4 separate regions of the Homo sapiens genome follow, and all the other regions are linked to region 1. Evidence: fine-mapped expression QTL. A gene starts in region 1. Each other region holds a variant in brackets. All regions are shown on one strand. Distances are from middle to middle.

What was found. PIP is the estimated chance that this variant, and not a neighbour inherited with it, causes the effect. A credible set is the group of variants that fine-mapping cannot tell apart.
Region 2: its variant is the best candidate, but not a certain one, in a credible set for the expression of CWF19L1 in hippocampus (GTEx, PIP 0.61).
Region 3: its variant is the best candidate, but not a certain one, in a credible set for the expression of CWF19L1 in monocytes (BLUEPRINT, PIP 0.72).
Region 4: its variant is the best candidate, but not a certain one, in a credible set for the expression of CWF19L1 in Th1/17 cells (Schmiedel 2018, PIP 0.81).

The regions. Positions count from the first base shown.
Region 1 is chr10:100,265,168-100,270,317 of GRCh38, reverse strand. CWF19L1 (CWF19 like cell cycle control factor 1) reads left to right here and starts at 2,680. Exons shown (of 14, transcript NM_018294.6): 1 at 2,680-2,747. The coding sequence starts at 2,725. RefSeq lists an enhancer at 4,700-4,949.
Region 2 is chr10:100,238,581-100,243,730 of GRCh38, reverse strand. CWF19L1 (CWF19 like cell cycle control factor 1) reads left to right here. Exons shown (of 14, transcript NM_018294.6): 10 at 1-33. Among named protein-coding and RNA genes, the nearest start is that of SNORA12, 3.9 kb to the right of the region's middle. The variant G/A (reference allele first, on the strand shown) is at 2,787.
Region 3 is chr10:100,171,725-100,176,874 of GRCh38, reverse strand. It overlaps ERLIN1 (ER lipid raft associated 1), which reads left to right. Exons shown (of 11, transcript NM_006459.4): 5 at 805-930; 6 at 2,594-2,667. Among named protein-coding and RNA genes, the nearest start is that of ERLIN1, 12 kb to the left of the region's middle. RefSeq lists an enhancer at 1,650-1,719. The variant G/A (reference allele first, on the strand shown) is at 2,397.
Region 4 is chr10:100,208,473-100,213,622 of GRCh38, reverse strand. CHUK (component of inhibitor of nuclear factor kappa B kinase complex) reads left to right here. Exons shown (of 21, transcript NM_001278.5): 10 at 3,834-4,028. Among named protein-coding and RNA genes, the nearest start is that of CHUK, 19 kb to the left of the region's middle. The variant T/C (reference allele first, on the strand shown) is at 2,383.

The sequences.
Region 1 (5,150 bases):
AGAATGCCATTTGTATTTTGATGGGGATTGGACTGAATCTGTAAATTGCTTTAGGTAGTGTTGTCTTTTTTCTTTCTTTCTTTTTTTTTTTTTTGAGACGGAGTCTCGCTCTGTTGCCCAGGCTAGAGGCTGGAGTGCAGTGGCTGGATCTCCGCTCACTGCAAGCTCTGCCTCGCGGGTTCATGCCATTCTGCTGCCTCAGCCTTCCGAGTACCTGGGACTACAGGCGCCCGCTACCACGCCTGGCTAATTTTTTTGTATTTTTAGGAGAGACGGGGTTTCACCGTGTTAGCCAGGAAGGTCTCGATCTCCTGACCTCGTGATCTGCCCGCCTAATTCTTCTAATCCATAAGCGTGGAATATCTTTCCTTTTTGTGTGTGTGTCCTCTTTCATCAGTATTGTATAGTTTTCCTTGTATAGATCTTTCATTTCTTTAGTTAAATTGATTCCTACGTAGTTTATATTCTTTGTAGCTGTTGTAAATGAGATTGCTTTTTTGATTTCTTTTTCAGATTGTTTACTGTTGGTGCATATAAATGCTACTGATTTTTGTATGTTGATTTGGTATCCTGAAACTTTTACTGAATTCGTTTATTATTTCTAACAGTCTTTTTCGTGGAGTCTTTTGATTTTTCAATACGATGAGTTTTTATGTCTTACTTTTGTATCCTCTTCTGGGAATTATTACCTGCTCATGTTTGGCAAACTTCTACTCTTCTTCAAGATTCAGTCTTGAGTGCTACTCCTGGGCAGTGCTGTATTATCCAAAGAGTAGGAAAAAATGCATGCTTATGTGCCAGCAAAGCAGAGCCACCAGTTATGAGGCAAGAAACAAACAAAAAAGAAGGCTTGTAGGCTGTGGGAAAAGCCAGAACTTTGTAGTTTTGTTTGGTTATTGAGACAGGGCTTGCTGTGTCACCCAGGCTGGAGTGCAGTGGCAAGGTAATAGCTCGCTGAAGCCTCCATCTCCTGGGCTCAAGTGATCTCCCCACCTCAGCCTCTGGAGTACCTGGGAGTACAGGCATACGGCCACCATGCCCAGCTAACTTTTTTTTTTTTCTTTTTAAATTTGTAGTAGAGACGAGGTCTGGCTATGTTGCCCAGGTTGGCCTTGAACTCCTGTTCTCAAGTGAACCTCCCGCCTCAGCCTCCCAAAGTGCTGGGATTACAGGCATGAGCCACTGTGCCTGGCCTGTAGTTCTTCTTTAATCTTATGTTTTATTAATTTTGAATTATTTAGATGCCCTTGATGAGTCTTCCTTTCCCCGCAGTCGTCAGGAACTCTCTCTTGTTTCCATTTCCTTACACACTTGTTTCCTACCACTTGGCCTGAACCCTTCAAAAAAGTCAATATTACAAAAACTAAAACCAAATAGGTAGGAGGGCTTTTGTAGATTAAAATAGAGACAGAACCAAATGCAAGTGTGAAACTTGATTGCATCTGAATCAAAACAAGCCCCAAATATAAAATCAGTTTGTAGGGAAATATGGAGAACTTTAAATATGGATGTATATTAGGTAATATTATTGAATAATTAATGTTAATTTTCTTAGCTGTGTTAATAGTATTACGGTTATGTAGGAGGATATCCTAATCTTAGGAGATAAATGGAGATGTATTCCTGTTGTCCGCACTTTATTTTATTTTATTTTTTGACACGGAGTCTCGCTCTGTCGCCCAGGCTGGAGTGAAGTGGCGCGATCTCGGCTCACTGCAACTTCCTCCTCCTGGGTTCAAGCGATTCCCCTGCCTCAGCCTCCCGAGTAACTGGGACTGCAGGTGCGTGCCACCACGCCCGGCTAATTTTTTGTATTTTTAGTAGAGAGGGGGTTTCACCGTGTTAGCCAGGATGGTCTGGATCTCCCAAAGTGCTGGGATTACAGGCGTGAGCCACTGCGCCCGGCCTGTACTTTACTTTCAAATGATTGAGTGAGAATGGAAGGGCTTGGGCACTTTGAGAGAAAGAGAACACAAGCAAATTTGCCAACATGCTGAGACTTACTGAATCAAGGTAATAGCCATTATTCTTTTAACTTTTTTTTTTTTAATTTGAGACGGAGTTTCGCTCTTGTTGTCCAGGCTGGAGTGCAATGGCGCGATCTTGACTCACTGCAACCCCCGCCTCCCTGGTTGAAGCAATTCTCCACCATGCCCGGCTAATTTTTGTATTTTTAGAAGAGACGGGGTTTCACCATGTTGCCCAGGCTGGTCTTGAACGCCCGACCTCAAGTGATCCGCCCGCCTCAGCCTTCCAAAGTGCTGGGATTATAGGCGTGAGCGTCCACGCCCGGCCTCTTAACTTTTTGATAGGTTAAAAACTTACAAAAAACGTGGATAGAGGGGGTCTGTCTTGCCCACTAGACCGATATGGTTAGGTTAGGTTAGGTTAGGTTAGGTTAGGTTAGAACCCGACATTGTGCTCTGTACTTCCTAGCCATTCATTCGCTTCAAGTGCTCTGAAATTTAATTTAAAAAATCATAGTTGGAATCCTTTCGGTCACTTTCTCTTTCTCCCTTCGTTCCTCCCTTTCCCTCTTGATTCTTCCTTGAGGCGCAAACACCTGAGAGAGGCTTCTGTCCCTCGGCGGTCTCCGTAAGTAAGTGAACCGTTATTGGCTGGAGGGCGCTGACGTCTGATTGTTGCGCGGTCGCATTTTTCCGGGGAGCGCGGATTCGCATTCCCAATTTTAGGTGGCAGTCGCAACCCATACTATTCGGACAGATGGCACAGAAACCGCTGCGCCTGTGAGTGACCGTGAATGGAAGCCTCTCTCCCTGTGTCTCTTTCGTGTGTGTAGGTGACGACACGGGCGGGAGTCTTTCCCATGACGGGAAGGGAGAAGGAAAAGGCGGAGAGACACGGGGCTGCTGGGGAGCTTAGGTGATGTCTTTGCCTGGCCGGGGCTGACCTCTTTTCCTGGCCCTTTTCGCTTCTGAGGGGGTTTCTCTTGGCGACGCTCGTTCGGAGAGGCGGAAGCTCCCAGAGTTAGGCCTCCTCCATCTTAGGGGGCAGTCCTGGCCTCTGACACATCCTTTCCCCTTCGTTTCTCCTGACCCCATTTATTTACTCGCCAAATAGCCATTGGGCCCACTGATGGGCCCTGGGCAGTGGTGGACAGAGTAGATAGGGACCCTTCCCTGGGGCATTTTTTTTTTTTTTTTTTTTTTGCGAGGAGGAGGGGTGGGGGTGGTGGTGAAGAGAGGGCTTCATGCAGCAAGTATTTATTGAAGAACTGCAGTGTGCCGGACGCTGTGCTAGGTGTTGCAACAGATGGAGTTCCTGCTTTAATGGAGCGTAGAGTCTAGAGGAACAGGTACTAAAGAATCCAGATAATGGGCCGGGCGCGGTGGCTGAGGCAGGAGAATCGCTTGAACCCGGGAGGCGGAGGTTGCTGTGAGCCGAGATCGCGCCACTGCACTCCAGCCTGGGCGACAGAACGAGACTCTCAAAACAAAACAAAACAAAACAAAACAAACAAAAAACAATACAAATAATGGCCGGGCGCGGTGGCTCACGCCTGTAATCCTAGCACTTTGGGAGGCTGAGGCGGGCGGATCACTTGCGGTCAGGAGTTCGAGACCAGCCTGGCCAACGTGGTGACACCCCGTCTCTACTAATACAAAAAAAAAAAATTAGCCAGGCGTGGTGGCGCGTGCCTGTAATCCCAGCTACTTGGGAGGCTGAGGCAGGAGAATCGCTTGAACCCGGAGGCGGAGGTTGCACAGTGAGCCGACACTGCACCTCTGCACTCCAGCCTAGGTAACAGAGTGAGACTCCGTCTAAAAAAAAAGGAATTCAGATAAATGTAAAGTTACCATAGTGATAGGGCCAGGCGCAGTGGCTCACGCCTATAATCCCAGCGACTCCGGAGGCCAAGGCAAGAGAATCACTTGAGTCCAGGAATTCAAGACCAGCCTGGGCAATATAGCAAGGCCCCGTTTCTACAAAAAATACAGAAAAAAAAAAAAATTAGCCGGGCGTGGTGGTCCCAGCTAATTGGGAGGCTGAAGCAGGTGGACCACCTGAGCCTGGGGAGGTCGATGCTGCAGTGAGCTGTGATCGTGCTGCTGATCTCCAGGCTGGGTGACAGATTGAAACCCTGTCTCAAAAAAAAAAAAAAAAAAATTGCAATAGTGGTAACTTTTGGGAAGAAAATATTCGTGAATCTGGGAGAGTGCATAAGAGGGGTATTTGGCTTAATGATAGGAGTCAAGAAGGCTTCCCGAGAATGTTAGGATTGAGCCTTGGGAAATAAGAGTAATCCATTGCTTAACAGCAGGGTTATGTTCTGAGAAATGAGTTGGTAGGCGATTTCGTCATTGTGCGAACATCTTTGAGTGTACTTCCAGAGACCTAGATGGTATGGCTTCCTGTACACCTAGGCTAAATGGTATAGCTGTACGTCAAGTTACTGTACTGAATACTGTAGGCAATTGTAACACAATGGTAAGCATTTTTGTATTTAAATATAGAAAGGGTACAGTGAAAACACCTGGCCGGGTGTGGTGGCTTATGCCTGTAATCCCAACACTTTGGGAGGCCGAGGTGGGTGGATCACCTGAGGTCAGAAGTTCAAGACCAGCCTGGCCAACATGGTGAAACCCTGTGTCTACTAAACATACAAAAATTAGCCGGGTGTGGTAGCGGGCGCCTGTAATCCCAGCTACTCAAGAGGTTGAGGCAGGAGAATGGCTTGAGCCTGGGAGGCAGAGGTTGCAGTGAGCCGAGATCGCACCACTGCACTCCAGCCTGGGCGACAGAGCGAGACTGTCTCAAAAAAAAAAAAAAAGAAAAAGAAAAAAAGAAAATACTGTATACAGGAAAAAAAAAAAGGGCACAACCTGTGTAGGACACTTATCATGAATGGAGTTTGCAGAACTGAAAGTTTCTCTGAGTGAGTTAGTAAGAGGTGAGTGAATGTATTACTTTACAGTATTGTAGACTTTATGAATACTGTACACTTCACCTATATTAAATTTATTAAAATATTATTTTCAACAGTAAACCTTAGTTTACTGTAACTTTTACTTTATAAACTTTAAGTTTTTTTACACTTTTTGACTCTTGTTATAACACAGCTAAGACATAAAACACATTGTACAGCTGTACAAAAATATTTTCTTTATATCCTTATTCTACAAGCTTTT
Region 2 (5,150 bases), 27 kb after region 1:
GAAAAACATTTGGTGGTCAACATCGGCACACATGTGAGTTACTTCCTTGGACTTTATAGAGAAGGAGATGCCTATTTGTTTTTTATTAACTTTATTGAGGCATAATCTACATATAACATTTACCCATGTTTAAGTGTATGATTCGGTGATTTTCGTAAGGTTACTGAGTTATGCCACCATCACGTGGTATAGTTTTAGAACATTTTTATCATTGCAGTAAGATCTCTTATGCCCATTTACAGTTAATCCCTGTTCCCAACTTTAGCCTCAGGCAGCAACTAGTCTACTTACTATCTCCATAGTTTGCCATTTTTGGACATTTCTTATAAATGGAATCATACAACATGTGGTCTTTTGTGTCTAGCTTCTTTTACTTAGCATAATATTCTTGAGGTTCATCCATGTTGCAGCATGTATCAGTATTTCATTCCTTTTTATTGCCAAATCATATTCCAGTGTATAGATGTACCACATTTCGTCTATATCTGTTCATCAGCTGATGGACGTTTGGGTTGTTTCTACTTTATGGCTATTAGAAATAATGCTCCCATAAAATATCTGCATGCAAGTCTTTGTGTGGATATAGACCTAGGAATGGTCTATATTTTGGATAGACCTAGGAATGGATTTGCTAGGTTATATAGTAAATTTATGTTTAACTTTTAAGAAACTGCTAAACTGTTTTCCAAAATGACTGCACCATCTTATATTCCCACCAGCAGTGTATGAAGGTTTCTGCTTTTCCACATCCCTGTCAACATTTGTTATAGCAATAGCCAGTTTTACAAGATAGCTCTCTTTTCCTCTCTCATAAATAGGTATGGTTCTCTAGGGGTGATGCTTTTATATACTTCTTGGACTCTCTGTATTTTTTAGCCCGTCTAATTGAGAGTGATGAGTTCCTTTTGCTAATTACCATTTAAAGTGATTTTCTTTGTCCTAAAAAGGCAGTCTTCTGTTGCTTATATACCTGTATTGGGTTAAAAATGTTGATATTCTTTTTATAGCTTCAGATTCAGAAACTAGAGCCTTATGAAATTTTTTTTTTTTTTTTTTTGAGATGGAGTCTCGCTCTGTTGCCCAGGTTGGAGTGCAATGGCGTGATCTCAGTTCACTGCAACCTCTGCCTCCCGGGTTCAAGTGATTCTCCTGCCTAAGCTTCCCAAGTAGCTGGGATTACAGGCACCTGCCATCACATCTGGCTAATTTTTATATTTTTAGTAGAGACAGGGTTTCACCCTGCTGGCCAGGCTGGTCTCAAACTCCCGACCTCAGGTGATCTGCCCGCCTCAGCCTCCCAAAGTGCTGGGATTACAGGCGTGAGCCACCACCCCCGGCCTATGAATTTTTATCTGGAATTATGTAATGCTGGAAGCTGATTCACACTAACTGATCACATCAAAGATAAAATTTCAGTTTTGCTTAGTAGTGGAGGGTGTAGCTTACTAATGACAGGAATACCCATATTCACACTCCTGGTGTGAGTATCTAGGAACCCAAGATGATGATGATATGGTTGTTTGGTAAGCATTGAATCAGACTATGAGAACGGGATGGTCTTGAGTATGATTTTATTCAGGTGGTGGAAAGCTTGAATGTGTGTGTCTCATGGGAAAGTCATTCTATTTCACATTTCCCCAGATACTTTTGCTTGGGTAGGGCTGGATTAGACATTAAATAATACCAGTGTTTGACTCTGATTTCCCTGGGTTTTCTGTAGACCATTGTTCTTTTTCATTCATTTAGAATGAAGAAAACTTAATTTTTAACACTATAGTCACCAGTGACTAGAATTGGATGTTCCCCAAGATTCCTGAGGAAAATATTTATAAGTCATTTTTGTTTTGTGACAGTTTTGGGAGGTGGGGCCTAATAAGAGGTGATTTGGTCATAAGGACTCTGCCTTCATGAATGGATTAATGTTATCACAGTAGTGGGTTATCATGAGAGTGGCTTTGTTAAAGTGAGTTCAGGTCCCCTTTTGCTTCTTTACTCTCACCCTCACTTGCCCTTCTGCCATGGGATGATGCAGCACGAAGGCCATTGCCAGGTGCCAGTGCTATGCACTTCGACTTCCCAGTCTACAGAACCACAAGCCAAATAGATTTCTATTCAAATAAATTATAGTCTGTGGTATTCTATTATAGCAACACAAGATGGACTAAGACAATTCCTTAAGTGTGTAGTGCTTCTGAAGACAGGTGCCTTCATCCATTTCTCATTGATTTGTTCTACTTTTGGTTTCTGGGGTTGATCCTTTCAACTTATCCTAACAATCTGAGGACCGTTTTTTGTGTCTTCCTTCCTGTAGACTGACTAGAGTCTCAATTTCATCTTACACTTTAAGGAGTTACACTTCTGCCTGTGTTGTTTCCACCTGAAGAGTCTCAGTCTTTTACATTTTAAAAAATGTCTTGGCCGGGTGCAGTGGCTCACGCCTGCTCACGGCTGTAATCCCAGCACTTTGGGAAGCTGAGGCAGGTGGATCACGAGGTCAGGAGTTCAAGACCAGCCTGGCCAAGAAGGTGAAACCCTGTCTCTACTGAAAATACAAAAATTAGCTGGGCGTGGTGGCGGGCGCCTGCAATCCCAGCTACTCAGGAGGCTGAGGCAGAGAATTGCTTGAACCTGGGAGGTGGAGGTTGCAGGCCAAGATCGCGCCACTGCACTCCAGCCTGGGGGACAGAGCAAGACTCTGTCACAAAAAAAAAAAAAAAAAAAAAAAAAAAAGGCTTAATTAGTGGCACACTCCTGTCTCTAGGGGGAGCACTAATGAAGTCAAGGCC[G/A]GTGACACAACTGAGCCATAGAACCTGTGGATGAAGTCTTCAGTGGAATAAGAGCAAACTTGAGAAGCTCTAGCTTTTATAGCAGTGCCCTTTTTGGATGATCTCTTTTGCATCTTTTTTCGTCTTTGGATTAGTTTATGCTATTTTTCTCTCCCACACAATTTGTATAGTAAGTTAGGCTTTGAATTGCCTTCTGTTTGGGAAGCTTCAATAGGTTCAAGATCACACGCAGGAGATAAGAGATTTGGAATGTGTGACATAGCTCAGTGCTGCTCTAGGCCTCAGTGAGAAGTGACTTTTCTTTTCCATTCATCTTTCTATTGTCCAGGTTACTCTAACTCAGGGTGTGGGCCTGGGCAACAATCAAGGAAACCTGTTTTCTTCTCATCTAGGCCTGAAACTAGAGGGGAAAAAGGTCTTGTTTGTGGCCCAACCCAACATCCCAAGTAGGCCACATGAGTATTTCAGCCTAGAGTCTACACTGTCCTTAGGTAGAAACCTCTTACAAACCTGTAATGACCTTTGGGTGTCTGTGGAAGAGTTTGGGATCTCCTCCCTGCAATTATTCTTTTTGATTGCCTTTTTTTGTTTTTTAAATTTTTTCCCTGGCTTTCTCTTTGTCGTGCCTTCCTCAAAGGTAGTACATAGAATTGTGCTGATGGTCCATAGCCACAGATTAGTAAAAAGGGGGAAGGGCTGCTGAGAGTGTAAAATAATTATTGCAAAATCAATGCATTTTACTTACGGGGAGAACCATTTATCCAGGTCCTATTTACACATGGTTAGAGATAATTCTAGTATAGAACAGATTAGAAGGTGAGAGTTTGAAAGAGAGAGGAGATTAGGCAAGCGTGAAACTATTCACAAAAATTGCAAGTACAGGATTAGAGATGGTGCAGAGGAGCTCTTTAGTTTAGACATCATTACCTAAAGAATGCACATCATAATAGAGAAGCTGATGTTTATGGCAGTGACCTTCTGACAAAAATAGCTAGACGACTCAGGCTTCTAGAGTAACCTTTTAAACAAATACAATATAAAGTGGTTATTATACAAATAAAAAAAAGTTTTTAGTGCCTGTGAGGTTTTCATCAACTTTAGTCATCTGGAAAATTAACTTTGTCAATATGCTCAGTCCTCTCTGCCAAACAAATCAAGGACAATCATGCTTTAGTATCTTTCCAATACATATCCTGTCATTCTGTTGGACTTTCTTATTATAGATGAGAAGTGATTCCTTCCTTCAGCCTTAACTTTGAGCCCACCACACTAAGAGCATAGTTGGAATAATTTTTTATTTTTTTTCCTGAGACAGTCTTGTTCTGTCGCCCAGGCTGGAGTGCAGTGGCACGATCTCGGCTCACTGTAACCTCCGCCTTCCAGGTTCAAGCAATTCACCTGCTTCAGTCTCCCAAGTAGCTGGGATTATAGGCACGTGCCACCATGCCCAGCTAATTTTTGTATTTTTAGTAGAGACGGGGTTTCACCTTGTTGGCCAGGCTGGTCTTGAACTCCTGACCTCGCGATCCATTTGCCTTGGCCTCCCAAAGTGCTGGGATTACAGTCATGAGCCAACGCACCCGGTCTGGATAATTGTTTTCTAACGTATCTATATTTGCCTGTACTGGTACTCATTGGGCCCTTCTGTGCTCACTCATGGCATCTTCCCATCAGAGAATATCTGAGTGGTAGACCATTCTTGCATGTTTTGGTTTTTACAGAAATATTTTTAGTTGCCATTAAAGGCTGACATCCATTGTTGGAAATCATTCTTTTCTGCCTCTTTGGATGCATCTGAGTTTGAGGTTTTACTTTCCTTCTACCCCATTAGGTTGTATGTTTGCTTTTGTTTTGTAGAATTTAGTCAGCAGCTTAAGGCTTAGGAACATTAGATGCTAATCATGCCATCTTAGCTTTTTTTGTGAGCCCAAGGAGTATATTCGGGGGTGGGGGTGGGAATGAAAGTTACTGGGGAGGCAGAAAGGGGTCATTTTTTTTTTTTTTTTTTTTTTGGAGACGGAGTCTCGCTCTGTCACCCAGGCTGGAGTGTAGTGGCGCGATCTCGGCTCACTGCAACCTCTGCCTCCCGGGTTCAAGCAATTCTCCTGTCTCAGCCTCCCGAGTAGCTGGGACTACAGGCACATGCCATCACAGGCCTGGCTAATTTTTGTATTTTTAGTAGAAATGAGGTTTCACCATATTGGTCAGCCTAGTCTGGAACTTCTGACCTCAGGCGGTCCACCTGCCTCGGCCTCTCAAAGTTTTGGGATTACAAGCGTGAGCCACTATCCCAGCCGAAAGTGGTCATTTTGAAATCAGAAGTTGTATCTTTTTGTGGTTGAGGGTGATAAAAACTGAAAAACT
Region 3 (5,150 bases), 93 kb after region 1:
CTGGGATTACAGGCATGAGCCACCGCGCCCAGTCGGATTTGAAATCCAGTTGCATCTAATATCCCACATGGGAAGGCCAGTGGAGCAAATTCTTGGATCTGAAGACAGAAGTAGAAAGCAGCATGTTTTTGTAGATAAAGAACAGGTTCTGACGTGGTCTAGTATGTACCTTTTGGGCATTTCTAAAATTCTCTGTTTCTTAGTTTCCTAATATGCAAATTTAGGAGAATTCAGTGCTAATTTATGTAAATTACCTGATATAAAGCCCAGCTCAGTTAATGTTTTAACAACTTTAAAAAATTGCCTTTTTAAAAACGGTCTTTTGCAACTGCTTTCTTCTTTTATTTCTACTGTTCCTCAGTTTGCCTAGTCTCTCTTTACCTCTTAGCTAAACTTTTGCAGTAATTGCCTTATGCTTTCCCTGCCTCTGATCTTTATGCTTCTCAGTTCATCTTCACACTGCTGGCCAAAGCGTAAATCTGACTGTCATGCCCTTGCTTGAAACCTTTGATAGTTCCTTATTACCTCCAAAATAATGGATACTTTAGTGTGGACTTTAAAGTTAGCCCCTGTTTGATGGGCTAACCAGCAGGTGTTTGGCATTAGTATTACAAATGCAAGGGTATTTGGAAAATTGAGCACAAGCAACACATCAAGATTTGTTAGTTGTGGTTTTTGGTTTCACTATTTTGTTGGCACTTTTCCTCATGTGTAATATATCACCCTGACTTTTACCCTGGCTGAATTTGAAGGTACCTGTGTCATTGTTGGGTAAAACAAACATGGGTTGTACCTCTCCTTCAGTGTTTGATATCGTGAGGAACTATACTGCAGATTATGACAAGACCTTAATCTTCAATAAAATCCACCATGAGCTGAACCAGTTCTGCAGTGCCCACACACTTCAGGAAGTTTACATTGAATTGTTTGGTAAGTGTCTTAATTCTTATGTATGTAAATAGCCAATTGGAAATCTTTGTTCAGCTTACTTATTGAGGTTATATTGGTAAACCTTAGTGCTATTTAAGCATTTCTTCTGAATTTATCATAGAGCAATTGTCTTTAAAATATTTTTTATCTTAAGTTTAAAATTTTTTATATAACTTGTTAGAGATTGGAAAAACTACTCAGACTGTATTCTGTTTTTACTGTAATAACTTAGTGAAAATTAGCTTTGTTGATGTTTTAATAGATAATTTGAAAAATTTAGAAACCTGTGTCTTGAGGCTCCCATTTTTGATGATTTGGTAGGAGACTGACAGGACTCAGCACATAGTTGTGTTCACAGCTAAGATTTATTACAGCCAAAGGGTACAAAGCAAAATCAGCGAGAGGCAAAGGCACACCAGCAAAATGCAGAGGAAAGCAGGTGCAGGCTTCCAAGAGTCAAACATGTGCCTAATTCCCACAGCAACAAGCTGTGACAACACATGTGAAATGTTGTCTACTAGGGAAGCTCATTGGAGACTCATTGCCCAGGGTTTTCACTGGGGGCTGATTATGTAGGCACCCTCTGCCTACCACATAAAAATTCCAGACTCCTGGAAGGAATGCAGGTGTTTGGCATAAGCCACATTGTATAAACAGTTCACAGCAAGTCAATTGTATTAGCTCTGGGGATAGTGGGACCCTTCTACAAATCCAAGTTCCTAGGTGCCAACCAAGGACGAGTTTACAAAAGGCCTTTCTAAGGATTGCAGTATCAGCCCTGCTTTCTTAACTCACTTCTGTACAACTTACTTTTCATTTATGATAGTGGAAGTTCTGACCAGGGAATGAGTTGTTGCTGTTGGTAGCTCACTTTTCCCTCCTGAAATTTTTAGTGAATTTCTAAGATGAAGGAATAAGCAAGAGTAATCAATTTAAAATCTACCAATTGAGTCCTCTTTGGTGATTGTCAACCACTGAAGTGGCATGTGAGGAAACTGATGGGTCCTGCTTTGTCTCACCACCAGTCATTTAAATAGCGAAAGTACCATTGAGGTGAATAGAAAGTGCATAGTTACAAGCCCAAGTGTTCATGCTGTGTATATTTCAAATACTTTTCTATGAGCTTCTCTCTCTGTCTCTCTCTCTCTCTCTCTTTAAATCCAAAATAACAGTGAGGCTGAGATCCATGGAAATGAAGTTTAGTTATTTGGGAATTTGAGTAAAGATTTACTGAACATAGAAATTTGTTTTTCTTTGAGAATGAGGATACATATTGAGTAAGAGCCCTGAATTAAGATACTAGAGATCCAGATTCTCCATTTATTAGATCAACATATTTTACCCAGTAGTTGTTTATCCAGTAAATAAGTCTAATAAGTTACCCAGTAAAAAAGCTTATCCATAGTTAAGTAATACATTTAGTGGGTAAACTTATTGGATAAACAGACTATCTGCTTGTCATCTTC[G/A]TTCCTTAATTTCTTTATTAGATAATTCCTTGCAATTTTTTTCCCACACAAAAGGGAAGAAAAGGCAGTTTAAGCTCTGTAAAAGAATAGTACTGTGGAAACTTTAGGTCTAATAATGATTAGTTTTGTTTCATTATGAATACAATGTAAAAAAAATTGACTATCATGAGATCTGTTGTTCTTGGCTTAAAAAACAGATCAAATAGATGAAAACCTGAAGCAAGCTCTGCAGAAAGACTTAAACCTCATGGCCCCAGGTCTCACTATACAGGTAAGTTCTTTTCCTAGGGAAGTTCTCTGGGGATTTTGAGAGCTTTGAGTTTGTTCCTCCTTTCATTGGATTGTTTTATTCAGCAATTATTTGAGATGCTATGGTGATTTATAGAATACCTTTCTCAATTTGACTTTAGATCTCTGCCAAAATAAAATACTCTTGTAGCTTACTATGGGTGACATTTGTGAACTCCTAGAGGGAACTGATAAGCTGAGGCTCTTACAAGGAAGTAAAATTCATATTTCTGCCATGTATGAAGCATTAAGATACAGTAATGGTTATAAATCAGTGTAAGCATAATCCCTGCCCTCAGTAAGATTATGAAAAGGGAGTTCAAGTGTAAAATTTGAACAATCCTGGACAAAATAGTTATCACAAAGTATTAATTGACAGATGAATCTATTGAATGATTATTGCTGTAAGAGTAAGAGAACATTGGAAGACAGTGTGTCTAGGAGAGGGCTGTGATTGAGTTGAGATTTTAAGTAGGTTTGGAAAAATTAATTGGATTTAAATGGGGGAAGAATGAGAAAGGTATTTCAAGTGGGAGGGACAGCCCTAGTAAAAACAAGGTAGCAGGTGAATTTAGTGGTAGTGGTGATGGTGACGTTGGGAAATAGAATGGTGAGAGGTTTTACCCCTGCTTTTTTTTGGGTCACTGTGTTTTCCAGATTGTGGGTTGTAAAATCAACTTTAGTGAGTCATGAACAGCATTTTAAATAAAATGGAATAGAATAGGAAAAGAAATGGTATGTAATAAGTTTAAATATTCTGTGACACTTGTGTTTCACAGTGTGGCGGGGTAGGTGTTTATATTGGACGTCAGTGCAAAATGTGTTTCTTACTGTGTCCACTGTCAGTAACATTCGAAAGCCACTGCTCTGGATCCAGATGACCTAAGAAGTTATATTGAGGCTTCTCTAGTGTCCTTTCTCAGGAGCTCTAGGAGACCAGTTGATTGTTGATTGTTGTGATGAACATTACTGCAACTAAAGCTTATCACATGTCTCTCAATTCTTTACACTCAGCACCACTGCTACTGAGAGTGTGCGCTCACTGTGATTGTATGTGTTCGTGCTTCTCAAAAACAAGACTGAAAGATAGGTGGGGTTTTCCTCATGGCCTCATTCATGCAATGTCATTATCTCAGGCGCTTGAGGGTGAGCCACCAGAGTTAAGGGGTCGTTTGAAATGTCCAGAGGTAACTTTGTAAAATCCTCTGAGTTGTTCAAGTCAGTTGTAGCTGGAGTAGCTTTTTAGTTTTAAAGATAGTGAATGTGAAGGTCAGCTCTTAGATTCTGCCCAGGGTGTTACTCAGAGATCTAGCTCATTCAACTGTTGTTTAGAATTCCTTGCCTTATATTACTTAGCCATTTTTCTGTTCCCAGTTTTTTGCTATTAAACAATAGTGTAATGAACATTCATGACACATGTTCTTGTATGTACAAATTATCTTTCAAACTGACTGTACAAATGTACATTCTTAACAGCAATATGTGCAAATAATTGTGACCCATGAACTCACCAACATTGGAAGCAATCAGACATACTGATTGTTACCATATGGATGGGTGGGCAATTATATCTCCCTTTGATTTGCATTCCTTTGGTTGTTAATGAGGTTGAACATCTTTTGATACATTTATTGGTCATTTATACTGTCTTCTGCTGATTGCCTATTCATATCTTTTGCCCATTTTTCTGTTGGATTGTTTTCTTTCTTACTGATTTGTTCTGTATAAATTTGGAATTTTTATACACACACGTTATTTATGTTGTAGAAAAAAGTTAGATACTAGGAAAATGATGAAGAATAAAATGAAATTCACCAGTAATCTTATTATGCAGGGATAACATCATTTGTTATATCTTTCTCGACTATTCTTAATGTATATGAACAAATGTTTGTAGATATAAATGCATACATGCTCAACTAAAGCAGAATCATACCATACTTGCTTTTTTCACTAACATTGTCTATGAACATCTTTCCAAAACAAAAATATAGGTTTGGTAAATCATTACTTTTAATGGTTATATTTAGTGAATCTCTATGGTTTCAAATTTTTTACTACTGTATGCATGTTGGAATGACCAAGCTTATATATTCTGTACATCTTTTTAAATCCCTCTCTTACAATAAATTCTTGAAGTGGGATTGATGATCAAAGTGTATGCCCTGTTTGGGGGCTTATTGATACATACTACCGAATCACCTTTTAGAAAAATTTTAGCAGCTCCCCCCCTCATTAGCAGTGTTGGTAAGCTGTAGTTCTTACACATTTGATTGCATGATTGTACCCAAATAATTAGCAGATGCAAGCTTTCCCTTTCTCTCTTAATCCTTTTGGAGAAAATTAGTCTGTTATTTTGTGTTAATTATTGAAGTTGAATACCCTAGGTTATTAGCTGTTTTTATTTCATTTATAAATTGTTGGTTTTGCTCATTTTTGTAGTTAATGGTTTTTCTAACTGATTTT
Region 4 (5,150 bases), 57 kb after region 1:
TTGAACCTGGGAGGTGGAGGCTGCATTGAACCAAGATCGCACCACTGCACTCCAGCCTGGGTGACAGAGAGAGACTCTGTCTCAAAAACAAACAAACAAAATTGTTAATACGCTTTTAATTTTTTTTTTTTTTTTTGAGATAAGAGTCTTGTTCTATCACCCAGGCTAGAGTACCATGGTGCAATCTCCACTCACTGCAACTTTCACCTCCCAGACTCAAGTGATTCTCTCGTGCCTCAGCCTCCCGCGTAGTTGGAATTACAGGTGTGCGCCATCATGGCCAACTAATTTTTTGTGTGTTTTTAGTAGAGACAGGGTTTTGCCATGTTGGCCAGGATGTTCTCAAACTCCTGTCCTCAAGTGATCTACCTGTCTTGGCCTCCCAAAGGGCTGGGATTACAGGTGTGAGCCACCGCGCCCAGCCTAATTTTTTAAATTGACAAATAATTATACAAATTAATGGGGTAAATAGTGATGTTTCAATACATGCACTGTGTAGTGATCAGATTAGGGTAATTAGCATATCCATCAGCTAAAACATAATTTCTCTGTGTTGGGAATATTCAGTATCCCTTTCTTTTTTCTTTTTTTTTCTTTTTCTTCTTTCTTTTTTTTTTTTTTTGAGACAAAGTCTCACTCTGTCGCCTGGAGTGCAGTGGCGCGATCTTGGCTCACTGCAGCCTTGATCTCCCAGGTTCAGGCGATTCTCCTGCCTCAGCCTTCTGAGTAGCTGGGATTATAGGCGTTGTGCCACCAAGCCCAGCTAATTTTTGTGTTTTTAGTAGAGACAAGGTTTCACCATGTTGGCCAGGCTGGTCTTGAACTCCTGACCTTAAGTGATCTACTTGTCTTGTAATCCCAAAGTGCTGGGATTACAGGCGTGAGCCACCACGCCCAGCCTCAGTTTAGTATTTCTGTAGCACCACTTATTTGGGCATCTGTGTTAGGATTTGTAAGTGGAAATAATAGTGGGCCTTCAAACTAAAAAGTGTACAGTAGAAAAAATAATCAACAAAACGAAAAAGCAACCCAACCCATGGATTGGGAAAAGATATTTGCATACCATACATCCAATAAGAAATTAATATCCTAAATTTATAAGAAACTCATGCAACTCAATACCAAAAATGTAAATAACCCAATTTAAAAATGTGCAAAGGACCTGAATTAGACACTTCTCAAAAGAAGAAATTCAGATGGTCAACAAACATATGAAAAGGTGCTCAACAACTCTTAGCATCAGGGCGATGCAAATCAAAACCACACTAAGATATCACCCCCCACCTGTTGGGATGGCTATTATCCAAAAGAAAAAAGATAAGCGTTAGTGAGGATGTGGGAGAAAAGAAATCCCTTGTACACTGTTGGTGGGAATGTAAATTATTACAGCTATTGTGGGAAACAGTACAAAGGTTCCTCAAAATTAAAAATAGAACTACTGGCCGGGCATGGTGGCTCATGCCTGTAATCCCAGCACTTTGGGAGGTTGAGACAGGTGGATCACATGAGGCCAGGAGTTCGAGACCAGACTGGGCAACATGCAGAAACCCCATCTCAACTAAAATTACAAAAATTAGCTGGGCATGGTGGTGCACATCTGTAATCCCAGCTACTCCGTAGGCTGAGGCAGGATAATTGCTTGAATTCAGGAGGTGGAAGTTGTAGTGAGCTGAGAGATCATGCCACTGCACATCAGCCTGCGTGACACAGCAAGACTCTGTCTCAAAAGAAAAAAAAAAAAAATAGAACTGTAAGATTCAACAATGTCATTTCTTGGTATATATCCAAAGGATTTTAAAGCAGGCTTGTGAAGAGATATTTGCACTCCCATGTTCATTGCAGCATTATTCACAATAGTCAAGATCTGGAAATAGCCTAAATGTCCTTTGACAGATGAATGGATAGGGAAAAAGTGGTATATATACACAGTGGAATAGTATTCAACCTTAAGAAAAAGAAGGAAATTCTGCCATTTAGGACAATGTGGATGAACCTGGAGGACATGTTAAGTAAAATAAGCAAGTCACAGAAAGAGAAATACTGCGTGATCTCACTTACATGTGGAATCTATAATAGTTAAATTTAATAGAAGCAGACCATAGCATCATAGTTGCCAGGGGCTGCAGGGATGCGGGTGCGGGGGTGTATGTAGAGATGTTTATCAAAAGGTCCAAAAATTACGGCAGCAAAAGAAAAAAAAGGTACAAAAATGACAACTATGAAGAGGTGACAGATATATTAATTAGCTGAAATGTGATAATTTCACAACGTATATCAAAACATCAAGTTGTATAACTCAAATATATAACATTTTTATATGTCAAATTAAATTGTCACAAAATAAAATATGTAAAAGATAAAGCAATAAATCAGGAGAGGGGG[T/C]TATGATAGATGAAACAAGATAGGCTCTATGTAAATGATGGTTGAAACTAGGTGAGGCATTCACAGGGTTGGGAGGGGGCTTATTGTACTGTTGTCTATAGTTTTGTGTCTTTGAAAACATCAATTCAGATTTGTGTTTTAAAGGGAAAAAAATAATAGTGGACTTGGATTAATGCCTTACCTTTGTAGTAAGGATTTTCAGCAGAGAGAATTTTAATCATTTGCATATACTAGTCAATGTAAGGCATGGAGAATGTAGGCATTAATTTCGTATGGCTTTTCTAAGGATACTGGAAGGAAGAGAATTTAAAATCATGTTCTTTTCAAAAGACTGAAGTCCAACTCTGTGGCTGTCCGCGCTGACAGGTGGGGACAGAGCCCCACCTGACTCAGCCTCACACTCACTTGGCATGTATCAGGCTACTTTTACTGGGGCTTTAGGTGAGAGTGATAAAACGGTTCTTACTTGATTTGGGGCCCTTAAGCAGGTTGCTGCTCTGGGATTAGGTTGTCTTATAAAAAGGTAACTCACCACGCATAACAATGCTTTTTCCTGTTTAAAGAGAGACCTAGTTCTTCTATCAGATGATTTCTTAAGGCAGCATGAAGTAGCCAGACACAAAAAGAGTTAAGATCCAAGCTCTACCAGTTATTAGCTGTGTGATCCCTAACAAGTTATTTAACTTAGAACTCTGGTTTCTTTCTCTGTTTAAAATGGAGATTAAAAGATCTAATTATTGGGGATGTTATGTGAAAGTGGTTTATGCCTGTGGTTGTCTTCTGTTAGGCACTTCATGAATTGGAATGTTTCCTTTTCGGTCTATGATAATGTTTTTTTCAAAATAAATAACTTAGGCCGGGCGCGGTGGCTCACGCCTGTAATCCCAGCACTTTGGGAGGCCGAGGCGGGCGGATCACGAGGTCAGGAGATCGAGACCATCCCGGCTAAAACGGTGAAACCCCGTCTCTACTAAAAATACAAAAAATTAGCCGGGCGTAGTGGCGGGCGCCTGTAGTCCCAGCTACTTGGGAGGCTGAGGCAGGAGAATGGCGTGAACCCGGGAGGCGGAGCTTGCAGTGAGCCGAGATCCCGCCACTGCACTCCAGCCTGGGCGACAGAGCGAGACTCCGTCTCAAAAAAAAAAAAAATAAATAAATAAATAAATAAATAAATAACTTGTTCTTTCAAATTGGGATTTTTCTTAATTTTGAAAATTTCTTAACTTTGAAATTTTATTGTTGGAACTAACATCTATTGTAGAAAAGGAAATTGTTCAGTTTTCAGAATGTCATTTTATAATTATAAAAGGAGATCTCACTTTGGAGAATGAGTGAGCCTTGTTTAATGTAGAAATAATGCCTTTTGCCCATATTCACCTTTTAGTATCTGGCAGCGAATCTTTTATGTAACAAATAATCAATAACTTTACCTTTTTTTCTTATTTATACAGATAGTACACATCCTAAATATGACTTCTGCAAAGATAATTTCTTTTCTGTTACCACCTGATGAAAGTCTTCATTCACTACAGTCTCGTATTGAGCGTGAAACTGGAATAAATACTGGTTCTCAAGAACTTCTTTCAGAGACAGGAATTTCTCTGGATCCTCGGAAACCAGCCTCTCAATGTGTTCTAGATGGAGTTGTAAGAAAATTAATTATAATATCCCTAGAGTATGTGAAATCTAGAGGGATTGCGTGCCCTGCAATTTTTATGCATACTTGGAATTCCTTGGGAGGCCGCACATTTTGTTTTGGTTTTGTCCTTCTCCCAACTCTTATCATTGCTTTGCAAGGTGAACAGGATAGAAATGAAACATTTGTTGTTTTGAACTTTGCAAGACTTTTTCTTTGGTGCCAGTTTTCTGCTCCTGTTCCCAGACCAAACTGAGGGTCAGGCTGCTTACTCTCGCGGCCCAATAACGAGATGCAGATGAATTGGGAGAGATGGGAGTTTTTATTTCTGTAACCAGTTACAGGTAGAAGGCCTGGAAATTACCGCCAGACCAACTCAAAATTACAAAGTTTTTCCGTAGTTTATTTATCTTCTAAGCTATATGTCTATGTGTAAGTTTGCATTCATCTAAAGACATAAGTGATTAACTTCTTTTAATCTGTAGCTGAGGTCTGAGTCTTGAAGACATTCCTCTGGAGCCTCAGTAAATTTACTTACTCTAAATGGGTCCAGGTGCTGGGGTGATTACCCTTATCTTGTCTCCTATTAAATCACAGAGGTTTAAGGAGTTCCTTCAGACCCCCAATAAACTTGTTTGTGGAGGCCTGGGGTTTCTTCAGACCCCCAATAAAACTTATTTAATTCTGAACGGGTCCTGTTAAGAATTCCTTTGTTATTTTGCTTTTAGGCCTGGGAAAGGCCTGGGCAGAACTCTTGGTAGGCTTTGGCTACATTTCAGCCTTTGTGTAAGGGCACTGGCTCTTCCAGTTTTTTTTTTTTTTAGACAGTCTTGCTCTGTTGCCCAGGCTGAAGTGCAATGGCACAATCTCAGCTCACTGCAACCTCCGCCTCCTGGGTTCAAGTGATTCTCCCTGCCACAGCCTCCCAAGTAGCTGGGATTATAGGTGCCCACCACCATGCCTAGCTAATTTTTTGTATCTTTAGTAGAGACGGGGTTTTGCCACTCCTGACCGACCTCAGGCGATCTGCCTACCTCGGCCTCCTGAAGTGTTGGGATTACAGGCGTGAGCCACTGCACCCGGCCACTCTTTCAGCTTTTAATATTTAACTTCACCACTCAGTCGTGCTGAA